3 linked regions of the Homo sapiens genome follow. The protein of the gene in region 2 purifies or fractionates together with the protein of the main gene of each other region. This does not show direct contact. Each region holds a gene or a part of one and is shown on either strand. Other genes may lie near its edges. The genes, in order: ACAD11, DUSP19 and TCEA1.

The links.
Region 1: the proteins of DUSP19 (region 2) and ACAD11 purify together in Homo sapiens (affinity purification with mass spectrometry; 3 studies listed by BioGRID and IntAct, with this or other methods). This does not show direct contact.
Region 3: the proteins of DUSP19 (region 2) and TCEA1 purify together in Homo sapiens (affinity purification with mass spectrometry; 2 studies listed by BioGRID and IntAct, with this or other methods). This does not show direct contact.

What each region holds. Positions count from the first base shown.
Region 1 is NC_000003.12:132,572,253-132,580,043, reverse strand, and holds part of ACAD11 (acyl-CoA dehydrogenase family member 11), read left to right. Parts: intron 1-485; coding exon 486-552; exon of another isoform or gene 553-1,162; coding exon 1,163-1,248; intron 1,249-3,028; coding exon 3,029-3,100; intron 3,101-4,117; coding exon 4,118-4,272; intron 4,273-7,791. UniProt on the Homo sapiens protein: Acyl-CoA dehydrogenase, that exhibits maximal activity towards saturated C22-CoA.
Region 2 is NC_000002.12:183,081,334-183,089,124, reverse strand, and holds part of DUSP19 (dual specificity protein phosphatase 19), read right to left. Parts: intron 5,618-7,791; coding exon 5,571-5,617; intron 2,086-5,570; coding exon 1,933-2,085; intron 1-1,932.
Region 3 is NC_000008.11:54,012,247-54,020,037, forward strand, and holds part of TCEA1 (transcription elongation factor A protein 1), read right to left. Parts: intron 1-7,791.

The sequences.
Region 1 (7,791 bases), on a different chromosome or scaffold from region 2:
AGGCAATTGCCACAGACCCCTGAACTGTGATAAAATAAAATTTTGCATTAAAATGAAAAAATATTTTTAAAATTTGACCCTTAAGAAATTAATAAAAGAACCAGGCTTATTGAAAGTGGGATCACAGCCTCATATACGTTGACATATAAAATATTATATTAGACATATAAAATTTCTCAGCTTTTCTAGCATGCTGATGTCTGAAATGGTGTAAATGGGAGAGGTGGCAGTTCTTTCATGCTGCTTTGACTTCTGGTTATTTTTGTGTAGCAGCTTTCATTGATGGGGTCCATTCTTGGCCTTGCCTAATCATTTTTCTTGGATGATATAGAGTGTTACAAAAGAATTATTATCTTAATGAATCAGGAATGTTCTCTCTATTTGTTTTCTGACATAGGTAAAGTGGGAAGGATTAGAACCTTCAAGGTGAAATGTCAAACTAGAAATTTCCTTTTATAATCTGCTTGTGTTCCCCTTGGTTTTAGGAGCTGGGAATCCCAAGTGCAAAATTGCAATTGTTTTGGGAAGAACTCAAAATACTTCTCTCTCCAGGTAATTAAACAATTCTGATTGAGAAACCTGTGTAGGAATGAGCCAGTCTTCCTCCTATCTAGGTAATTTACTTAAAATTCACTGTTTGGACTCACAAATCATAATGTAAGATATGAGAGTAAATGTCATATATTTGTATTTCACAAGTATTTTCTAACAGGTGTTTTTGGAAAACATTATAGGGAGTATTGCTGAACATTCTTCGCTGTGGAATTTTCAGTATTAGAAAGTGTTGCTAAATTATCAAAGCTGTTTGGATTAAATTATCAGACAAATTTTTTCAGACCTGTGTAATGAAGTGATTAGATGTTTAGATCAAAGGCAATAATCTTGAAATGTTTAATTATATATATAAGTTCCCAGTTACCATTGTTGAGCAGTGAGAAGCTTCAATCAAACAACTCATTTATTTTCAAATCATTGTTTCTGTTCCAGATCACAGCCTGCATCAGACTATGTTGGTGTACGTCTTTTACACAGTTCCCATTCCAGTCATCACTGCTTACATGACTACATGAAAACATCAAAAAGACAATTGTGATTCTGCTTATTATCTGTTTTATTTTTCTTCTTAGCAAACTTTTTCTAATACAATTTTTCTTTTGACTAGACACAAACAGCACAGCATGATTCTTGTTCCCATGAACACACCTGGAGTAAAAATAATAAGGCCTTTGTCAGTTTTTGGCTACACAGGTAGGTATCCAATAAATATGACCATGCATTAGCAAGCAGGAAGGCTAGAATATGCAGTAACATTGAAGGCAATAGCATTTTAATGCATAAGATAGATTCTTAGATATTCCTTTGTCTGTGACAACTGTCTTAATATAAATGCTGGTGGAGTTCAGAGTAGAGCCAATAAAAAGAAATAGTATAGCATTTATGTAATTTATAATTATATAAATTATAGAATTTATAGAATATAAATTCTGCCTTTTTGGGAAAGGGCAGATTGTATTTAAGGAAGAGCAACACTACCAGTCTTTTCTCTGTCATTCATAAAAATGGATTAATGCACAGATAATCCACAATAAAATTATTTTTATCTCCAATTTTAGCCCTCTTAATCAATCAACTTACAAGAACTGTTAAAAAGCAATGAGTTTTTGACTTATTTGAGTGCAAAATTTTCCTTCCTCTGCCCTTGGGTGGGACTTCTAAGAAGCAAAGATCCATTTGTTTCCTGCCACCTACTGTGGCACGTGTTCATTGTGTACAATAAATATTTGCTAAGATCACCCTCTCAGCAAGTATTTGCTTAGCCACCATGCCCAGCTAATTTTTGTATTTTTAGTAGAGACGGGCTTTCACCATGTTGGCCAGGCTGGTCTCGAACTCCTGACCTCAGGTAATCCACCCTCCTCGGCCTCCCAAAGTGCTGGGATTATAGGTATGAGCCACCGGGCCCAGCCCCTGGCTTTCTTTTTATCATTGAATATGACTAATGAATATGTTCAAGTGGCAGATATAAGACTTGCAGTTTTATAGAATCACTTATCAGTTAAGATGCAGCTGTAGAGTATACCCACAGGGTAAGCATAGGTGGCAAGATGGGATGAGCAAGCTTGCTGGAGAAAATTGCATGTAGGAAATTGTTGGGTTGCAGCGAAACGGCCGCAAAGATACCAAAAATGCGTTTATAATATAGTTGAGCTGCAAATAATTTCCATTGCAGAGGCTACATTTGATTATTCAGTATGAAAACTTTACTAGCACCTCTCCAACTCCCTGTGTCCAGGGCCAAAAGAAACAGTGTGGAGAAGGCTGATTATTGTCTCCTCTGACAGGAAAAGGGTGTAGAGTTAGCATGAGATTATCTCTAAAACTTGGCAGGGAGAAGGGGTGATGCAAAGATAAAATGTGAACGTGTTCCTGGCCTCAGTGTTTCAAATGCCAGTATTTTCAAGAGACGAACACACAGTGGAACAAGTCTAGACTGGGAGTAAACCTACCTGAAGGTCTAGTTTCTGTATCATCACTAATGCCAAGCCTGCTCTTTCCCCTCAAGCAGGCCCCTGTCATCTTTAGGCGTTGGTTTCCACAATGATAAAATAAGAAACATGGATTACATTACTCATTTTTAATTTTTGAAACATTGAAACTTTTTTCCATGCAAATTGTTTGGAACCCCATATGTAAAATATTTCAAAGAAGCAGCAATAATAAAACAAATAAAATACTCTGGCTGGATCTATGGAGCCTGGTCTTCCTTTTTCCTAGCTCTCTGAAATTGTACTTCAGAGAATGAATTAGAAAACATCTGGATCAAAGGGTTTCTCTTCTTGAACAGTTGATGAGTTTTCTGGGCTGCTGGGTCCTGGGGTTCAGGGCTGAGGCTTACCTCAGAATGTTCATGCCATATGGATCTTTGAAATCCTATTTTCTTCAAGTAATTATATTTCAGCAGATTAAGAATATGTGACTCTTTTTTAGTCAACTCCTTTTGCTCTAAATTTTATTTTCTATTTTATAGATAATTTTCATGGAGGACATTTTGAGATCCATTTTAATCAAGTGCGAGTTCCTGCCACAAATCTAATACTAGGTGAGTTGAATTTGGAAATGATTCTTCAGTATTGTACATTAATATTTCAGCTCTAAATCTGGAAAAGATAAGTCTTTCCAGATTTAGACCTGAAGTCTACCTTGATTTAGATATTAGGTTCGTGCAAAAGTTATTGCGGTTTTTGAACTGCAATTACTTTTGCACCAAGGTAATTGCAGTTTTTGGCAAAAGCCGCAATTACTTTTGCACCAACCTAATACTTTCCCTTCTTGTTTACTCCATTTGTCAAGGGAAAGTTTTCTGTTTGGCGGATTTTCTTACATGGAATGGTGAGGTTTTATTTAAGTGTTGGATGTGGTTTTCTATATCACATCAATTGAAAAGATAATATGAAAATTATATAATTCAGAGCAATACACTTTCTCCTAGAACATGATCTGTAGGCCTCTATTTGTTTTAAGAAAACCTCAGTACTTTATGAATTCAAGTATTAGATATAAGTTAGAAGCATAAATAACTTTGAACACTGTATGCCATCCTCTTGCTTATTAGAATACTATATCCCTTTCAAAGAACATCTAGAATACCACCTCTTCCAGGAATGTTTTTGTGTTCATCCCATCCATTCACCAGGCCCCTGATACCTGCCAGGCCCTGAGGTTATAATGATGAACAGAAAATCTCTTCTTCCTTTGCCTTTGTTTCTCTCTGTATCTCTTACCCTTACCCACTCTTCTGGATTCTAAACTCCTAGTACAGGGACTATGTGTTATTCCAACTTTGTATCTATTGCAGCATTAATAAAATAGCTTATGCATAGTACATACTTAAGAGACAGTTCTGAAATTTGAAATGTTTAATGGTGGTGGTTTTAAAAACATAGAAATCAAAATTCCCATGAATTCATAGTGAACCTTATTATAGAACTGACTTTTTTTCACTAGAAAGCCATTTTTATTAAGGGCAGCTCATCTCTTTCCCAGGATTTGTATAAATAACAAAAGGAATGGGCTAGGCCATTTTCACATTCCCCCTTTTTTTCCCCTTTCTTCCCAGGTGAAGGTAGGGGATTTGAAATTTCCCAAGGCCGCCTTGGACCTGGCAGAATCCACCACTGTATGAGAACAGTAGGTTTGGCGGAACGCGCTTTGCAGATCATGTGTGAGCGGGCAACACAAAGGATAGCTTTCAAGAAGAAGTTGTATGCACATGTGAGGACGATTACTTATTTGAATTTATTGTAGCCCGGTGCACTACACTAACATTGAACAAAAACATTACTTGTGAGAGACAGACTTTCTCTACATGAACCGGGTGATTCTTTTCAATAAGGCATATTTATGTCTGTATTTAAATATAGTCTAATGAGAGGTATTTATCTTTATGAAAAATTAAATAGTTCCTAAAATGCTTCAACACCTCTGCACACAAGAGTGTAGACAGTTCCTTCAACTTTCTCAGATTCTTGTTCTTTAGAGAACCTGGAACATTAGAGCTCCCTGTGGACATGAAGGAGCTGTCATAAGGAAGAAGGATTTGCCTTGTCCATTGGTTTCCTAGAAGGAATTAGGACACATAAGTGTAAAGTTACAGGAAAACAGCCCAAAACTCAGGGAAAGGAGAAACATGCTAATAAACCTAAAAGTGGAATCAGCTTCTTCAGGAGGACTTGAATTCTGTCACTGGAGAAACACAAGTAGAAATGGGACCAACATTTTGTGAGATATTCATGACTTTTTGAATTATCATCTGTAAATTATATACTACTGAGTCTGTTGTTACAAATCACTGTAAACATAGTTACATGTGGCCCATATAATAAAAATTAGGAAATATGGCCAGGCGCAGTGGCTCACACCTGTAATCCCAGCACTTTGGGAGACCGAGGCGGGTGGGTTGCCTGAGCTCAGGAGTTCAAGACCAGCCTGGGCAACATGGTGAAACCCCGTCTCTACTAAAATACAAAAAAAAACAAAAAAAATTAACCAGGCATGGCGATGTGCACCTGTAGTCCCAGCTACTGGGGAGGCTGAGGCAGGAGTATTGCTTGAACCCGGGAGACAGAGGTTGCGTTCAGCCAAGATCGTGCCACTGCACTCCAGCCTGGCGACAGAGCGAGACTCTGTCTCCAGAAAAAGAAAAAAAATTAGGAAATATGTATTGAGATGAAATAGAAGGTATTATTTCAGACTTCCTTAAAAAGTCTTCTACAGAGAAGTAGGATATCCACATCATCTCCCTTCTAAGTTTTAAGAAGGCAAGAAAAACTATTATTAAATGTTCACTCTTTATTATTGCTAACATGTTAGTGTTAGGTCAAATCTGTGGTGATGGAATTGTATTTGTGTTTGCTGCACATGTATATTTTAGTATGTCGGTCTCCTTATACATTTTTGACCATCTTATGAAATTTGCAGTATGTATTTTTTACCTTAAATTATTATAATCTATGTTTGCTTTTTGTAAAGTATTATTCAGCATTATATGATTTATTTGTATAGTTTTTTAACTGAAAAGCTACAGCCCGCTTTATGACACTACACCTGGGAATAATTTGTCAGGAGCCCTTTTAGTATACAGCGAAGGCAAGTTTTTAGTATACAGCAAAGTTCAGCTGTTGGCTGGGCACTGTGGGAGGAGGTGAGAAAGTGTGACCCTCTGGGGCCCTGGATACAGCCTCTGATGCTGTTGAAGAAGGATGAAGAGGTGCTCAGGGCACCAACCATTACTTCTTACCCTTTTGTCAAGCTTGCATGCAAACTCTGGAGCAGGGTGAAGGGAGGACACAGTAAAGTCGACAAACAAGCATCGCGAATGCACAAAAGCCCTCTGTGCAAGTGCTGCTTTCCTGAGTGGTGTTTTAATACTGCATTAGTAAAAAATTTCCCTTCCACCTTTTAAAGTTAATGTGTCATGCAGAGCAAGCCTGGCTTTTTAACAAATATGCCTGTTTTCACTGGAAACTTTTCACATCTGGCACAAATAACGTGATCTGGCAGAAACAAAAAGATGTGTGAGCATGTCATAAGCAAAAATCTGGGCCAGCTTTTTTATTTTAATTTGTGAAAGGAACATTTCATTTCTTTGAATTTGGAGGCTCCTTCCAGCTGCCTTCTAATTTACTCCAGGCTGTAACGCAAAAAATTCTCCATCCCAGTTCTGTCTTAGGAAATATATTTGGCAGTTCCCTAGAGCACCTAGTTTCTACCCATTTAATGCTTTTCAGCAAATCTAGGGTCTATAGAGACCCAACTGAGAATACCTCCTTTATTCTAAAGCTGAGAAGTAAATGTCTTCTAAGTCTGTTCATGAAGTTATAAAGTTGTAATTATCCTGTTTTACAGCCATCAAAAAATATTTATTCACCACCAGCAACTTGTTTGAAATTAATTCAGAGCCATGTTTCAACCTCTAGGGCAGTGCCATCCAAAAGAAATATACTATGAACCTTAAATGTTATTTTAAATGTTCTAATAGCAACATTTTTAAAAAGTGAAAAGAAAAAGATGGAATTAATTTTAATAATATATTTTATTTAACCCAATATATCAAAAATACTATTTCAACATGAAATCAATATAAAAATTATTAATGAGATACTTTATATTTTAATATTTATTCTTCAATATGGGGTGCATATTTTATACTTATAGTACATCTCAGTTCAGACTAGGTATGTTTCAAATGCTCATTAGCCACATATGGTTAGTAGCTATCATGTTGAACATCACCGCTTTAGGGAAACTCTAATCAAATATCCCCTGTTGAAGGGCAAACATGACCAAGCATAAAAATGGCCAAGGTGTGCATGTTCTCACTCATAAGTGGGGAGATGAACAATAAGAACACATGGACATGGGGAGGGGAACAACACACACCGGGGCCAGTTGGAGGGTGGGGGCAAGGAGAGGGAGAGCATTAGGACAAATAGCTAATGCATGCAGGGCTTACAACCTAGATGACGTGTAGATAAGTGTAGCAAACCACCATGGCACCTGTATACCTATGTAACAAACCTACACATTTTGCACTTGTATCCCGGAACTTAAAATAATAAAGAAGAAAAGAAAGGAAAATAAAAGGACAATTAAACGTCAAAAAAATGGCTAAGATGTAAGGAAGGTGCGCAGTTTCAATCCCCTGCAGATGGCTAGCAAGTTATCCCAGCACCATTTATTGAATAAGGGAGTCCTTTCTCCATTGCTTGTTTTTGTCACCTTTGTCAATGATCAGATGGTTGTAGGTATGTGGCCCCATTTCTGGGCTCTCTGTTACATTGGTCTATGTACCTGTTTTTGTAACAGTACCATGCTGTTTTGGTTACTGTAGCCTTGTAGTATAGTTTGAAGTCAAGTAACATTATGCCTCCAGCTTTGTTCTTTTTGTTTAGGAGTGCCTTGGCTATTTGGGCTCTTTCTTGGTTCCATATAAATTTTAAAATAGTTTTTCCTAGTTCTTTGAAGAGTGTCATTGGTAGCTTGATAGGAATAGCATTAAATCTATAAATTGCCCCAGGCAGTATAGTCATTTTAATGATATTGATTCTTCATATCCATGAGCATGGAATGTTTTTCCATTTGTTTATGTCATCTCTGATTTCTTTGAGCACTGTTTTGTAGTTCTCCTTGTAAAGATTTTTTACCTCCCTGGTTAGCTCTATTCCTAGGTATTTTATTCTTTTTGTGGCAACTGTGAATGGGATTGCATTCCCGATTTGGCTCTCGGGGAGT
Region 2 (7,791 bases):
TCCTCATCTCAGGCTTTATTTTTAGGAAACCCAAGCTAAAATCCACTCTAATTTACTGGCCCAAATTAAGGCAAACTTTATTTTTTAAATTTATTTAAAATTCCAAGCTTATTAGAATATTCAATCTCTTGCTTTTCTTTCTAGATATGATTAACCTCTCTAATTTTTACTTGCAACATTTACATCTCTTCTAATGTTAATATGAATATGGATGATATCTATACTTTGCCATCTCTGGCATATTCTACATCTCCTTAGAGAAGGAGCCAATACAGAAACATCCTTTTTATTTTTAAAACTATTAACTCACACACTGGAATGTTACAATCCAGAGCCTGTAAATTTTTTAACAAGAAAACAGAATGGCCAATATTAGGCTTTGAATTAAAAAACCTCTCCCTTGGCCAGGTGCAGTGGCTCATGCCTGTAATCCTAGCACTTTGGGAGGCTGAGGCAGGTGGTCTGCCTGAGCTCAGGAGTTCAAGACCAGCCTGGGCAACACGGTGAAACCCTGTCTCTACTAAAATACAAAAAATTACCCGGGTGTGGCAGTGTGCTCCTATAGTCCCAACTACCTGGGAGGCTGAGGCAGGAGAATCACTTGAACCCGAGAGGCGGAGGTTGCAGTGAGCCGGAGGTTACAGTGCACCGAGATCACACTACTGCACTCCAGCCTGGCGACAGAGTGAGACTGCATCTCAAAAAAAAAAAAAACAAAAAAAAAAAACACAAAAAACAAAAAACAAAAAAAACCTCTTCCTTTGCTTCCATCCAAATACAGTCGTGCATCATTTAACAATGGTGATGCATTCTGAGAAATGTGTTGTTAGGCAGTTTCTTCGTGGTGTAAACATCACAGAGTGCACTCACACAAACCTAGAATGGTATGGCCTATTGCTCCAAGACTACAAACCTGTTCAGATGTTACTGTACTGACTTGTAGGCAACAGTAACACAATGGTATGTATTTGTGTATCTAAACATACATAAACATAGAAAAGGTATGGTAAAAATACATTATTATAATCTTATGGAACCACCATCATATATGCAGTCCAAACATCATTATGCAGTGCATGACTGTATCTGCTATTAAGTAAAGTTGATGAACAGTAGAATTGAATAGTTTTATATTTTCTGGGTAGTCTAGTAGGAAGGCACGTAGAACAGTGCTGGGCACCTAAGGCATTCAATAAATATTACTAAATGAAAGGAAAGAAGGGAGAGAGGAAGAGAAAATGGGAAGGAGAAAAGATAAAGGGAGAGAAGGTAGGCCAGAGTTCAATTAAACCTGATTGTAATCCTGTCATTGTTAGGTGTTCCAGAAGAGTTATTTCTCTCTGTAAATGCTTCTACTTTCCCATCTACGTATCTTACATAAAGTCTGTAAGAATTATTTGCTGACTAAAAATGATGACATTTCAAGGAATAATTGTTGATAACAGCCAACCTAGAAACTTTGCCTGTCAGAATGTTGACTTCAATAACAAGCCTGAAGTACTATATGACATTGGCTATTGGTCTTCTAACTTCAGAAAACCAACAGACAGTTTCTGATCAGCATTTTCATACAATCTAAGTAAAGCAATACACATTTAGTCCTTAGAGTGCCTTAAAATTTTACTGCTAAAAATGCATAGTTTCACAATAACTATCTCATTCATTAAAATCAAATGCATATTAATCATCATAAATACACTAACAAGTCTAGAGCAGTCTCTGTTTTATAGTCTGAATTAATGTTGAAACTAAACATCTCATTGAAAAAAGAGCAATTAACCAAATAATTGTAGGAAATAATGAAATATTGTTAGAAGGGAAATTTCATAATTGTTTTTTAGAGATTCATTATAAAAATAATAAAGATTGGGTAATGGATCCACACTTTCAAATTTCTGCTTCTGCAGAACTATGGATCAAAACAAAACTCACTTTTCTTTTTGCTTCTTCAATAAATTCAAAACATTCTGGAAAATAAGACAGGATGTTGGTTTCAGGCAGATCCAATATAGAAATGCTCTTATATGTAAAGTCACTGAGGAAAGCATTTTCAACTCCATATGCAACATTAAGAATATGAGTCACCTTAAAGAGAAAGAAAAAAGATGATTGTTTTAAATCCCATGAATTAGGTTACCTAAAAAGAGACTGGGGTGTTGATATCTATAACAAGAAAGGTAAAAAATTTAAATGCGACTCACTTGAATGATAATACTGCTTCAATCCCACACCAGAAGTGCTCCTTCTACTATATGTTTTCTCTCTCTCTCTCTCTCTTTTAACTTATTATTATCATCATGCAGAGACAGGGTCTCTTTCTGTCACCCAGGCTGGAGTGCAATGATGCAATCATAGGCCACTGCAATCTTGAACTCCTAGGCTCAGGTGATCCTCCTGCCTCAGCCTCCCAAGTAGCTGGGACTACAGGCGTGTACCACCACACCCAGCTAATTTTTTTTTTTTTTTTTTTTTTCAGAGAAGAGGGGGGCGGGTCTCACTTTTTTTGCCCAGGCTGGTCTCGAACTCCTGGCCTCAAGTGATGCTCCCACTTCCGCCTCCCACAGTGCTGGCATTACAGGTATAAGCCACCACACCTGGCCTATATATTTTCATAGCCCTGGACTTGCCCTATTATAGCTCATGCCATTTAGAGATTGTTTTTCTCTTTCACTGCACTAGAAACTCCATGAGGGTAGGGACCATGTTTAACTTAGTGTTATAAGCGAATGAGCAGTGAGTTTAGCAGAAAATGCTTAAAATCTTTGTTGAATTAATCTGTGAATATCCATATAAAAACTTAAATAGGAGAAGTGTATCAGTGGTATACAACTTCCCTTTCAAGAATTATTTCCCTATTTTCCTTCATATTCTTTACTTTATAAAATGGTTCTCCAGGATGACTGCACATTAGAGTCACCTGATGAACTCTTAAAAACTATCAATAACACAGGGTCTCATACCCAGAGATTCTGATGAACCAATCTGGCTGAAAAGTAAGGGGAGGTGTGGTTGTAAAATATTTTCTTTCAGATGGTACACTTGAGCAACCTCCTCCTCTTGCATCTATGTATTTGAGCCCCTTTTCCTAGAGTCCACCAACCATGTGGAAGAAAGCCAGGCAGACAGTCCATTAAGATAATCCAAAGGCTGAGAATCACTTGAACCCAGGAGGTAAAGGTTGCAGTGAGCCACGATCATGCCACTGCACTCCAGCCTGAGCAAATGAGCGAGACTCTGCCTCAAAAAAAAAAAAAAAAAAAAAAAAAAAAAAAAAAAACCTAACAACCTTGTCCACATCTGTACTTCCCCTCTGCCTTCTGATTACAATGAAGGATGTGCTCGTGCATCTTCGATAAGGCTCATTCCAGAACCTGTGCTTGGAGTCACAGTGCTTCCTACTTTCTTGGCATCTCCCTATAGTCATAATTCTTGCTTTTCTGTATCTTCAATTCCTTCTTCTACCATCAGCCTTAAAACATGCTCAAAGCTCTCCCCTCCCCCTCCTCACCTATGGCTCCTCTCTCTCTTTTTTTTTTTCCCTTTGCCATCACTTCCTCACTTCTCAATCTTTTGCAATATGGCTTTGGCCTCCAATTCAAATGAAACTGTTTCCACCAAACGCACTAACAACCTCTCTGTCACCAAGTCCCATGGATATAATTTAGTCCTAATCGTACTTAAACTTTTACAGCATCTGACATTGCTGACTCTCTCCTCCTTAAAACACTATTCTCTTTAGTTTCCATGACACCATCTTTTTGTTTTACCTTCTTTGGGCCTCTTTTAGATCCTCCTTTCCCACTGCGGACTCTTCTTTGTTTGATCATTCCATATAGGGTGATATTCCTCAATTTATCAGTTCTGTGATAAGATTCTGTCATAGGCCCTCTTCTCTCTTACTTTACACTTTTCCCCAGGCAGCTTCATCTATTCTAATGGTTTCAGTAACTACTTAAAAGCTGAAGATTCCTAAATCTATATATTCACCTCTATTCTGAACTTCAGACCCTACATATCCACCCACCTAGATGATCCACATCACCCAAAACCTAACATGTTCAGAACTGAGCACACTGTTTCTCCTTCAAAGCCTGTTCCTTCTACGTTGCTTTCAATCTCATGGAACGATAACTTTACTTAGTTACCAAAGAAAGCTAGACATCAGCCTTGACTCCTCCTTCTCCCTTAGCCCCACTCCCTATCCTGCCTCATAAGTAATCAAATTTTAAGAATTCTACCCTCTAAAAAACCCCTCACATCTATCTAATTCTATCTCCACTAAATCTTAATCTCAGCCATTATCATCTTTTCCTTAGATTACTGCAATAGCTTTATAACCAGTTTCCCCCATCTCTAACTTGAGCAACCCTCCAATCGATTTTCCACACTGCTTCTAATGAGAAATCTTTCTGAACTGCAAATTTGACCTTGTTACATCTCTGGGTAACTTCTCAGTGGCTTTCCATAGTCTTTTGGATCAAGTCCACACAACTAACTTTGGCTTACATGGCCTTTTGTGATCTGGCTCATGCTTACCTCTCTCTCTGGCCTTGTCTCTTGGTGCCCTTCTTTCTCACACTCTCTATTCCAGGGTCACTGAACTTTTCTGTCCCTGAAAGCATCCACCTTTCTCTTGCTTCTGGGCCTTCACACATATCATTTATTCTGTATGAACACTTTACTTTCTTTTTTTTTTTTGAGATAGAGTCTTGCTTTGTCGCCCAGTCTGGAGTACAGTAGCAAAATCATAGCACACTGTAACCTCGAACTCCTGGGGTCAACCAATCCTCCTGCCTTGGCCTCCCAAAGCCTTGGGATTACAGGCTGTCTACTCCTTTCCTAGCCTCTTCAGAGAAATACTTCAATATCACTTCCTCCAGGAAGTCTCCCCTGACTCACTTATCCCCCCAAAAACAAACCAAACCAAACATGGGTTAAGAGCATCATCTCCTATGCACTTCTACAGCACCCTGCACTTCCCCATCAAAGCACACAAACGCTGTTCGGTAGCTGCTTGTCTCTCTTCTCTGTCTGCCCCTTAGGTCATACGCTTCAAGTGAACAAGAATCTCTTGCACTCCTTCACCTACAGCAATTCCATGACCTGAAACAGTACTCAAAAAAATGGTAGAGGGCTAAAAATCCTTTTGAGTAAATATGTAATAAATCACATCAGTTGTATGGAGTAGAGTGGCTGGAAATGGCATTACAGAAGACGTGGTATGTGAGTTGGGACTTAAGGTATGGACAGGTCTTGGACAAGCAGAGATGAGGGAAAGTCTATCCCACACAGAGGAACTACATAAACACAGGCAAGAAAGACATGCCTCCAAGGTCAGGTTCATGAGGGTACATGAAGGAGATCAAGAAGAATGTAAAACTGGAAAGACAGATTACAGATCCACATATTTGAATTATGTGCCAATTATTTTTCAACTCTATTGAAATGATAGCCAAAATGTTACCAAATAAACTCCATAATATACCAAAGATGGACCAATACAGTTTTTCCTAAATAAAACAATTAAAATATTCTGTGTATATGGTGCCAGACTTAAAGCATTTTTTTACCTTATTCTTTTTCAGTGTATCCAAATCATGAGCAGCATCTTGTGACCCTAGAAGAAATAAATGATACCACCTTGAACACAAATATAATCATCTTGAACTTTTATATAAATTTCTACAGCAATTCTGTTATTAAAAAAAAAAGACCAACAACTTGGAAGGACCTTAGTCCAACTTTCTGAAGGGCAATTTGATAACAGTCATCCTACATAAACTCCTGGACTCTGAAATCCTACTTCTAAAAATTTGTCCTAAAAGTTATAGATGTTGCAAAGATTAGCTGTAAGGATGTTCACCATAGTATTGTTTGTAATATAAACAAAACAAAAACAAAAGAACACTAAAAGCCCAATAATAGCTGTTGCATTAAATAAAAAATGGTATAATTGTGTAGTGAAATACATACAGCCATTACCACCATTAGAAATAAGAAATGTAAGCCTGAACAACATTGTGAGACCCTGTCTATAGAAAAAAAATTTTTTTTAATTAGCCAGGCATGGTAGTGCATGCTTGTATTCCCAGGTATTCAGAAGGCTAAGGCAGGAGGATCCCTTGAACCTAGGAATTCGGGGTTACAGTAAGCTATGGTTATGCCACTGCACTCCAGCCTCGGTGACACAGCCAGAAGAAAGAAAACAAAAGAAAAGAAAAGATAAGAAAAGAAAAGACAAGACAAGACAAGAGAAGAGAGAGGGAGGGAGGGAGGGAGGGAGGGAGGAAGGAAGGAACGAACGAACGAACGAACAAAAGGGAAGGGAAAGAGAGGGAGAGAGAGAGAAAGAGAGAAAGAAGAAATGTGGTAAAATATGTATAGCATGGAAACATGTTCTTGGCCAGGAGTGGTGGCTCCTGTCTGTAATCCCAGCACTTTGGGAGGCTGAGGTGGGTGGATCACTTGAGGTCAGGAGTTTGAGACAAGCCTGGCCAACATGGCACAACCCCATCTCTACTAAAAATACAAAAATTAGCTGGGCATGGTGGTGCATGCCTGTAATCCCAGCTACTCAGGAGGCTGAGGCACGAGACTTGCTTAAACCTGGGAGGCAGAGGTTGCAGTGAGCCAAGATCGTGCCACTGCACTCCAGCCTAGGTGACAGAGTGAGACTCCGTCTCAAAAAAAAAAAAAAAAAAAAAAGAAAAATGTTCTCAATGTATCTGGTTATAAAAGCAGGTTACAAAATACCATCATCCATTTTTATAACAACAAAAAATATGTATATGCTTAAAAAATGGAAAGGAGGTATACATAGAACAAAATGTTAACAATGGGGTTGCAGGTGATTTTTTTTTCTTCTTTATGCTCATTCTGACTTTTTACAATAAACATCTCTTTATTTTGTAACTTAAAAAAGGATATTACAAAAACCACACACCCACAAGATGACTTTGTGCCAGCTGGTTTGGGAACACCCAGTAGCTTAGAGCAAATGCTGTTGGTCTGCAGGATCCCACCCACACTCCATGTATCACTAGGGCTGTGCCCTTCTACAATCTCTTTCTGTCACAGCCGGCTTCCCAGATCTCCCACACTTGGAAACTGGCTCTAGTTAATAAGCAAGTTCATATGGAGAATAACTAGTCAAAATAAAGTGAGTTTCACAGTTTAAAGATTTCAAGTATTTTACTTTCCTGAATTAGGTTCTATTTCATAAACTTTTTTTTTTTTTAAGTTACCCATCTGGGAATTCAGCCAACTTTTATTATGTGATTTTAGGTGGCTGAAAGGCCAGCAAGTATGCTGTTTGGCCAATATCCTCTTGATAATACCAAGCTTACAGGTTCGCTACTGAGCTCACATTCAGCTTTATTATACTTAAAAGTTAGCCTATCAAAATATTAACATTTGTTAAAGCTGAATGGTATATACATAATTGTCTATTAGTTTCTGTAATTTTCTATAAATTTGAAATACTTCATAATTTTTTTTAAAATTCTGTTTTCTAATGTAGAAAGCCCTAACCAACTCCAGAGGAAAAAATAGGTTCAAATAATTGAAATTTGGTGGTTTAGTCAGGCGTGGTGGCTCATGCCTGTAATCCCAGAAATTTGGGAGGCCAAGGCGGGCAGACTGCTCAAGCCCAGGAGTTCAAGACCAGCTTGGGCAACATGGTAAAACCGCATCTCTACAAAAAGTACAAAAAAATTAGCCAGGCATGGTGGTGTGCACCTGTATTCCCAGCTATTCAGAGGCTGAGGTGGGACGATCGCTGGAGCCTGGAAG
Region 3 (7,791 bases), on a different chromosome or scaffold from region 2:
TGTGACTATTACAACTGACTACAGAAATGTTAAGGCCGGGCGCAGTGGCTCACACCTGTAATCCCAACACTTTGGGAGGCCGAGGTGGATGGATCACGAGGTCAGGAGTTCAAGACCACCCTAACCAAGATAGTGAAACCCTGTCTCTACTAAAAATACAAAAATTAGCTGGGCGTGGTGGCGGGTGCCTGTAATCCCAGCTACTCAGGAGACTGAGGCAGAGAGCTGCTTGAACCCAGGAAGTGGAGGTTGCAGTGAGCCGAGATCGCGCCACTGCACTCCAGCCTGGGCGACAGAGCGAGACTCCGTCTCAAAAAAACAAAAAACAAAACAAAAAAAAGAAATGTTAATGTCTGGTTGCTGAAGTGCCCAAATCCTGCTGGGGGTATTATGTAATATATGATGTATATACCAAATTATCTTTATCAAATCTGAAAAATCTGGAATTACCAAATATATCAGACCCTAAGGGTTTTGATTAACAAACTCTAGAAGTCTGGACAACACAGCATGACCCCCTCTCTACAAAAAATAAAGATAAAAAATTAGCTGGCCATAGTGCCTGTAGTCCTAGCTACTCCAGAAGCTGAGGCGGGAGGACTGCTCGAGCCCAGAAGCTTGAGATTACATGAACCATGATCGTGCCACGGCAGTCTAGCCTGTGTGGACAGAGTGAGACTCCATTTCTAAAATAAAAATTAAAAAACGACGACGACAAAAAAAAAAAAAAAAAAAAAAGATTGTGGGCCTGTATTCTCCATTTACCATTGACATTTTTCTTCTATCCACATTTCCAGGATTTCTGATCCACTTCTGACCAAGAATCTCTTAATAAGGGTAAAGAATCACACTTCTAGAAGTTCCTTAAAAAGCAGGGTTTCCTAAGTATTAAGTTGATTCTTCCAACATATCAGCAATGAGACATACAGTTTAAATTGTTTTCCAAGTAGAGGCAATATATTTGCATTAATTTTGTTACTTTCCTTTTCTACTCAGCTCTCTGGTGAGGCCATGGTTGGAATAAAAAGCTAAAAGTAACACTCACGGAATAAAACTATGACCTTTCTGAAAACTGCACTGTGTTCCAACTAATTCAAATAAATATTTCACTGAAGGGTCTTTAAGAAATAACTATGGGCTGGGCACGGTGGCTTATGCATGTGGCTCACACCTGTAATCCTAGCACTTTGGGAGACCGAGGTGGGAGGATCAACCTGAGCTCAGGAGTTCGAGACCAGCCTGGCCAACATGGTGAAACTCCATCTCTACTAAAAATACAAAAATTAGCGGGGCGTGGTGGCGGGCACCTGTAATCCCACAGCTACTCAGGAGGCTGAGGCAGGAGAATCACTTGAACCCAGGAGGCGGAGGTTGCAGTGAGCCGAGATCGTGCCACTGCACTCCAACCTGGACGATAGAGCAAAACTCCATCTCAAAAAAAAAAAAAAAAAAAAAACAAAAAACAGACAAACAAAAAGAAATAACTATGATGATCTGAATGAGTGAAATGCAAAACAGATAATCATACATTAATTCGGTGACAACAAACTTTGAGTGCTGCTATGTGCTTGGCATTGTTAAATACTTCACATAGATTTAATTCCACCTTCACCATAAACCCTATAGAAGCAGGTATTATCTCCATTTTACAGATGAGGAAATATGTCAAGAAACTTGCACAAGGTTCTATGATTACTAACTAGAAAAGGTAAGATCTACTCCAGTAATGTCAAATGTACCAAGCTCTACTGTACTGGGGATACAGCAGTGAGCAAGACTGAAACCCTTTCTGACATCAGGGAATTTTAAAACAAACAGAAATCTTTAATCATCTATTTCAAACCCTTAACTACACACAAAAAAAAGAAACTTAAACCCAGAAAAGAAAAGTGACTTGCCCAAGGTCATACTGACGGGTAGTAAGGTCATGAACTAGTCGCCTGACCCTTATACTGCTGCCCTTTCCCCAGCAGTGCGCCAGTGGCAGCACTCCTTTGTGAATTCAGATGACTAGTATCACCAAACAAGAAGCTGTATTTTAGCCTTCCCCAAGCATCACCTAGCTCTAAATGTCAAGCCTAGGCCAGGCACAATGGCTCAGCCTGTAATCCCAGCACTCTGGGAGGCCTAAGGCAGGAGGATCACTTGAGCCCAGGGGTTCGAGACCAGCCTGGATAACAGAATGAGATCCCACCTCTATTTAAAAAAAAAGAAAAGAAAAGAATACATGTCCAAGTCTATGAGATTGTAGCATCTCCTACAGATGATGCAAGAGAAAGAAAGACTCTTCTTTAATTTCCAGAGCCAAATTTAGTTCACACTACTGGCTGAAAGATAAACTACAGCTATCACACTATTTTATTACATTGTTGGTGCTCCTATCTGGTAATAGAAAACAAGTGATTTTATAAACCATGATACTTGTACTATGTGCTCAGTATACTCAAGACCATGTAGGATACGAACATCCCTCTCCTCAAGGAGATGTAAAAAGGAGGGAGTAATAGGGATTTATAGTTAAGAATATGGTGTACATATATGACAGATTTAGATTCAAATCCATGCTCTGACATTTGCTAACTACAAGATCTGGGTAATGTTATTTGTCCTTTTCAAGCTTCAGCTTCTTTATACGTAGGTGAGCATAACACACCAACCTTGAGTAGTTAAAACAGCCAAATGAGGCAACATTACACAGATAAAGTATCAAAATAGAGGGTCTGACACATAGCATGGTTGATGAGGAGTACAAAAATATACAAATAATTACTTATTTCTACCATAACAATAATCTCCAGGGGCCATAAGCCAGCATTTTCAGTGATCATATTTAAGCTCAATCAAGTAAAACAGTTACTTCTTCTATAATAATGTCTTCTTCATAGGCATTATTATAAGATTTCAAGGTTAAAGAATTAAGATATTATCCATTTTTTTTTTTTTGAGACAGTCTCACTGTGTCGCCCAGGCTGGAGTGCAGTGGCGTGATCTCAGTTCGCTGCAACCTCTACCTCCTGGGTTCAAGCGATTATCCTGCCTCAGCCTCCCAAGCAGCTGGGACTACAGGCGCCCACCACCACGCCCAACTAATTTTTGTATTTTCAGTAGAGATGGGGTTTCACTATGTTAGCCAGGCTGGTCTTGAACTCCTGACCTCGTGATCTGCCCACCTCAGCCTCCCAAAGTGCTGGGATTACAGGTGTGACCCACCATGCCTGGCCCATTATCTATTTTCTTAAACAATGAATTATAGATATTTGAGTTGTAGCTCAATAACATCACTATAAAGCTAGGACTTATGATATTACTATGTCATCTCAAATTTGCAGTTAAACTACACCAAAAGCACAAGCAACAAAAGAAAAATATATATAAATTCATCTTCATCAAAATTAGAATATTTTATACTTCAAAGGCCACAACCAAGAGCAGACAGACAACCCACAGAATGGGAGACAGTATCAGCATATCTAACAAGGTTCTAGTATTCAGAATATAAAGAACTCTTACAACTCAATAATAAAAAGACAACCCAATTTAAAAATGGACTAATCCAATTTGTACTCCAGCCTGGGCAACATAGCCAGACCCTGACTCTTTTCTAAAAAATGGGCAAAGGATCTGAATAGACATTTATTTCTCCATAGAAGATATGCAAATGGCCACAAAGCAATGAAAAGATGCTCAACATTGTTAATCACAAGGGACATGCAAATCAAACCCACAATGAAATACCACTTTACACCCACTAGGAAGGCTATAATCAAGACAAATGATATTGGTGAAAATGAGGTGAAACTGGAATCCTCACACACTGCTAGTTGGAATGTAAAATGGTGCAGCCACACTGGAAAGGTCTGGCAGTTCCTCAAAAGGTTAAACATAGTTACTATATGACCCAGTAATTATTCTCCGAGGTATACACCCAACAGAAATGAAAACATATGTCGCCAGGCGCGGTGGCTCACGCCTGTAATCCCGGCACTTTAGGAGGCCGAGGCGGGCAGATCATGAAGTCAGGAGATCGAGACCATCCTGGCTAATACAGTGAAACCCAGTCTCTACTAAAAATACAATAGCCGGGCATGGTGCTGGGTGCCTGTAGCCCCAGCTACTCGGGAGGCTGAGGCAGGAGAATGGTGGGAACCCGGGAGGCGGAGCTTACAGTGAGCCATCACACCACTGCACTCCAGCCGGGGTGACAGAGCGAGACACTTGTACAGCAATGTTTTTAACAGTATTATTCACAACAGCCAAAAAGCTGAAACAGCCCAAATGTCCACCAAATGATGAATGAATAAGCAAATCGTGGTTGGGTGCAGTGGCTCACATCTGTAATCCCAGCACTTTGGGAGGCTGAAGCGGGTAGATCACCTGAGATCAGGAGTTCTAGACCAGCTTGGCCGACATGGTGAAACCCTGTCTCTACTAAAAATACAAAAATCAGGCCAGGCGGTGTGGCTCACGCGTGGAAATCCCAGCACTTTGGGAGGCCAAGACAGGCGGATTATGAGGTCAGGAGTTTGAGACCGGCCTGGCCAATATGGTGAAACCCCATCTCTACTAAAAATACAAAAATTAGCCGGGTGTGGTGGTGCGCGCCTATAGTCCCAGCTACTCGGGAGGCTGAGACAGGAGAACTGCTTGAACCTGGGAGGCGGAGGTTGCAGTGAGCCGAGATCGCGCCACTGCACTCCAGCCTGAGCGACAGAGCAAGATGAGACTCCGTCTCAAAAAAAAAAAAAAAAAAAAAAGACTATACTAAGCAAAAGAGGCCAGTTACAAAAGACCACATACTGTATAATTTCACTGACAGAAAATTTCCAGATTTGGCAAACACACAGACAGAAAGTATATTAGTGGCTGTCAGAGGCGTGTGAGAAATTGGTGGGGGCAAATGAGGGCTGAATGAGGAGTGACTGCTTAATAGGTACAGGGTTTCTTTTTGGAGTGATGAAAATGTTCTAAAATTATACAGTAGTAATAGTTGCACAAACCCGTAAATACACTAAAAGCCACTGAATTAACAGTTGACCCTCAAATAACATGGGTTTAAACTGCACAGATTCACCTGAGAATTTTCTTTCACCTCTGCAACCCTAGATGACAAAACCAACTCTTCCTTTCTCCTCAGCTTATTCAATGTGAAGACAAAGAGGATGAAGACCTTTACGACGACACATTTCCACTTCATGAACAGTAAACATATTTTCTCTCCTTTATTTCTTTTCTTTTCTTTTTTGAGACATTGTCTCGCTCTGTCACCCAGGCTAAGTGCCTATAATCCCAACATTTTGGGAGGCCAAGGCAGGCAGATCACTTGAGTTCAGGAGTTCTAGATCAGCCTGGGCAATATGGTGAAACCCCATCTCTATAAAAAATACCCAAAAAAGGCTGGGCTCAGTGGCTCACGCCTGTAATCCCAGCAATTTGGGAGGCCGAGGCAGGTGAATCACTTGAGGTCAGGATGTGGAGACCAGCCTGAGAAAAATGGTAAAATCCCATCTCTACTAAAAATACAAAATTAGTTGGGTGTGGTGGCACGCACTTGTAGTCCCAGCTACTCGGGAAGCTGAGGTGGGAGAGCTGCTTAAACCCAGGAGGCGGAGGTTGCAGTGAGCCAAGATCATGCCACCACACTCCAGCCTGAGTGACATGACTGCATGAGTTATACTACTACAAAAGTTATACTACTTGACTGCATGCGGGTAGGGAGGGGGGATAGTGTGAGCACCACAACCCTTGCATTGTTCAAGAGTCAACTACACTTTAAGAATGAATTTAATTCTATTTCTCGATAAAGCTGTTATTAAAAATTGTATAGTCATTCTAAATTTTGAATTATGCTAATTAATCTAACTCTGATATAGATATCAAAGTTTTGTTGCAGTTGTTATTTTAACTGAGGTACTTGGAAATGTAAATCAATATTTCAGGTATCCCAGCTCCTACGAAATTCTAACATCTAATTTCAATTTCTCTCCCTGCAATTTAATTCCACTCAACCTTGAGCCTTCAATGAAATAAATAAATAAACCTCAGCACTACCCACAAAATCTCTCCATGAACTTCAAAACTTTATGTCCTTGCCTCACTCCTCCTTCTATAATCTAAATGAATCCTTTACAAAGAAAGGCAACCTCAGATTGTTTTTTAGGCCTTATTACATCCTTTAGGCCCACAATCCTACACTAGAAGCATTTTATATTCACTTAATCCTTACTAAATTATCTCCAGTTTACCATGACGAGAAACATTTTAGTGATGACAAAGAACTTGCCTAAAATCACACAGCTAAAGTTCAGAAAAGTTCAGAAAAGCCAGGATTTGAACCCACATTAGCAGTCAGACTTGGTTACTGACACCGAATCAAAGTGACAAGAAAACAGCTTAAGCAGAAAACAGCTAATACCTAAAAATTTCGAACTACTTTCTGTGGTTCACTGTGGCTTGGTCATGTGCACTTGAGATCAAGTACACATGTGGGACAACATCTTGGGTAGAACTAGGGTCAGGATATTGATCTAGGTAACTAGGGAAACACACCTGCCCCAAAACAGCAAGTTCATACTCTTACTTCCTGATTTTGTATTCACTTAATTGTATCCATGCATGGTTCAAGAGCAGATGCAAGGGTCTTCTAGAGAGACACTGTAGCTTAAGAGAGGAGTACTAGCTTTGGAGCAAAACAGATTTAGATTCACATCTTCACTTGGCCATTCACTAGCTATTTGGCTTAAGACTATTCTAAATACTTAGCATCCTCATTTTCAGAATGAGGATAATACTCATCTTGCAAAGTTGCCTGAGGAATAAATGGGATAAGGTGGGTAAGTATTTAGCAGAATACCTGGCTCAGAGTAATAGCTCAATAAATGGTAAGCTGTTTTTAGTTAAGTGTGACACCTATGGTTTTAGTAAAACAAAATTATTCAGGTAAAGCAGCAGCATGTTAAAATATTTTTTTAAATGATATCTAAATTTGCACTTAAATTTGTCAATTCTGATGACAACTATTACTCTTCAAAGTTAACTTTTTCAGGCTGGGCGCAGTGGCTCACATCTGTAATCCCAGCACTCTGGGAGGCCAGGACGGGCAGATCACCTGAGATCAGGAGTTCAAGACCAGCCTGGCCAATACGTTGAAATCCCATCTCTACTAAAAATACGAAAATTAGCCAGGCATGGTGGTGCACACCTGTAGTCCCAGCTTCTAGGGAGGCTGAGGCAAGAGAATCGCTTGAACTGGGGAGGCGGAGGTTGCAGTGAGCCGAGATTGCACCACTGCACTCTAGCCTGGGTAACAGAGTGACACTGTCTCAAAAAAAAAAAAAAAAAGTTAACTTTTTCATAATATAAAACATTAAAAAAGCTGAGAGAAAAATCTGAAAACTACCGAAAAAAAGAGAAACACATATACCATAATTCTACAACCCCTAAAACACATTTTGTTGAATTACTGAACACTTAAAAAGCCATCTGTAGGCTGATGATGCAGTTGGGGAAAAGAGGAGTGTCATTCTGACCATTTCTCTTTCTCTGTATTTCATCAGCCTGTTTGAATTTCCAGAGGACAGGCAGGGAAAATGCTGGGGAAAACAAAAGTACAAGAGCCAGTCAGTTTTACCTTTCTTTTTGGGAGGCAAGTTTTCATACTGGAAAAGTTTTGAACTACCTGAAAACTTAGATTTGAGAAGAAAACTTAGATTTGAGGATTATTTGTGGAGTTTATTCTCATTCTCTTCCAGACTCATTACAAAAGATCTGAAAATTTGTTGACGATTTGAGAAC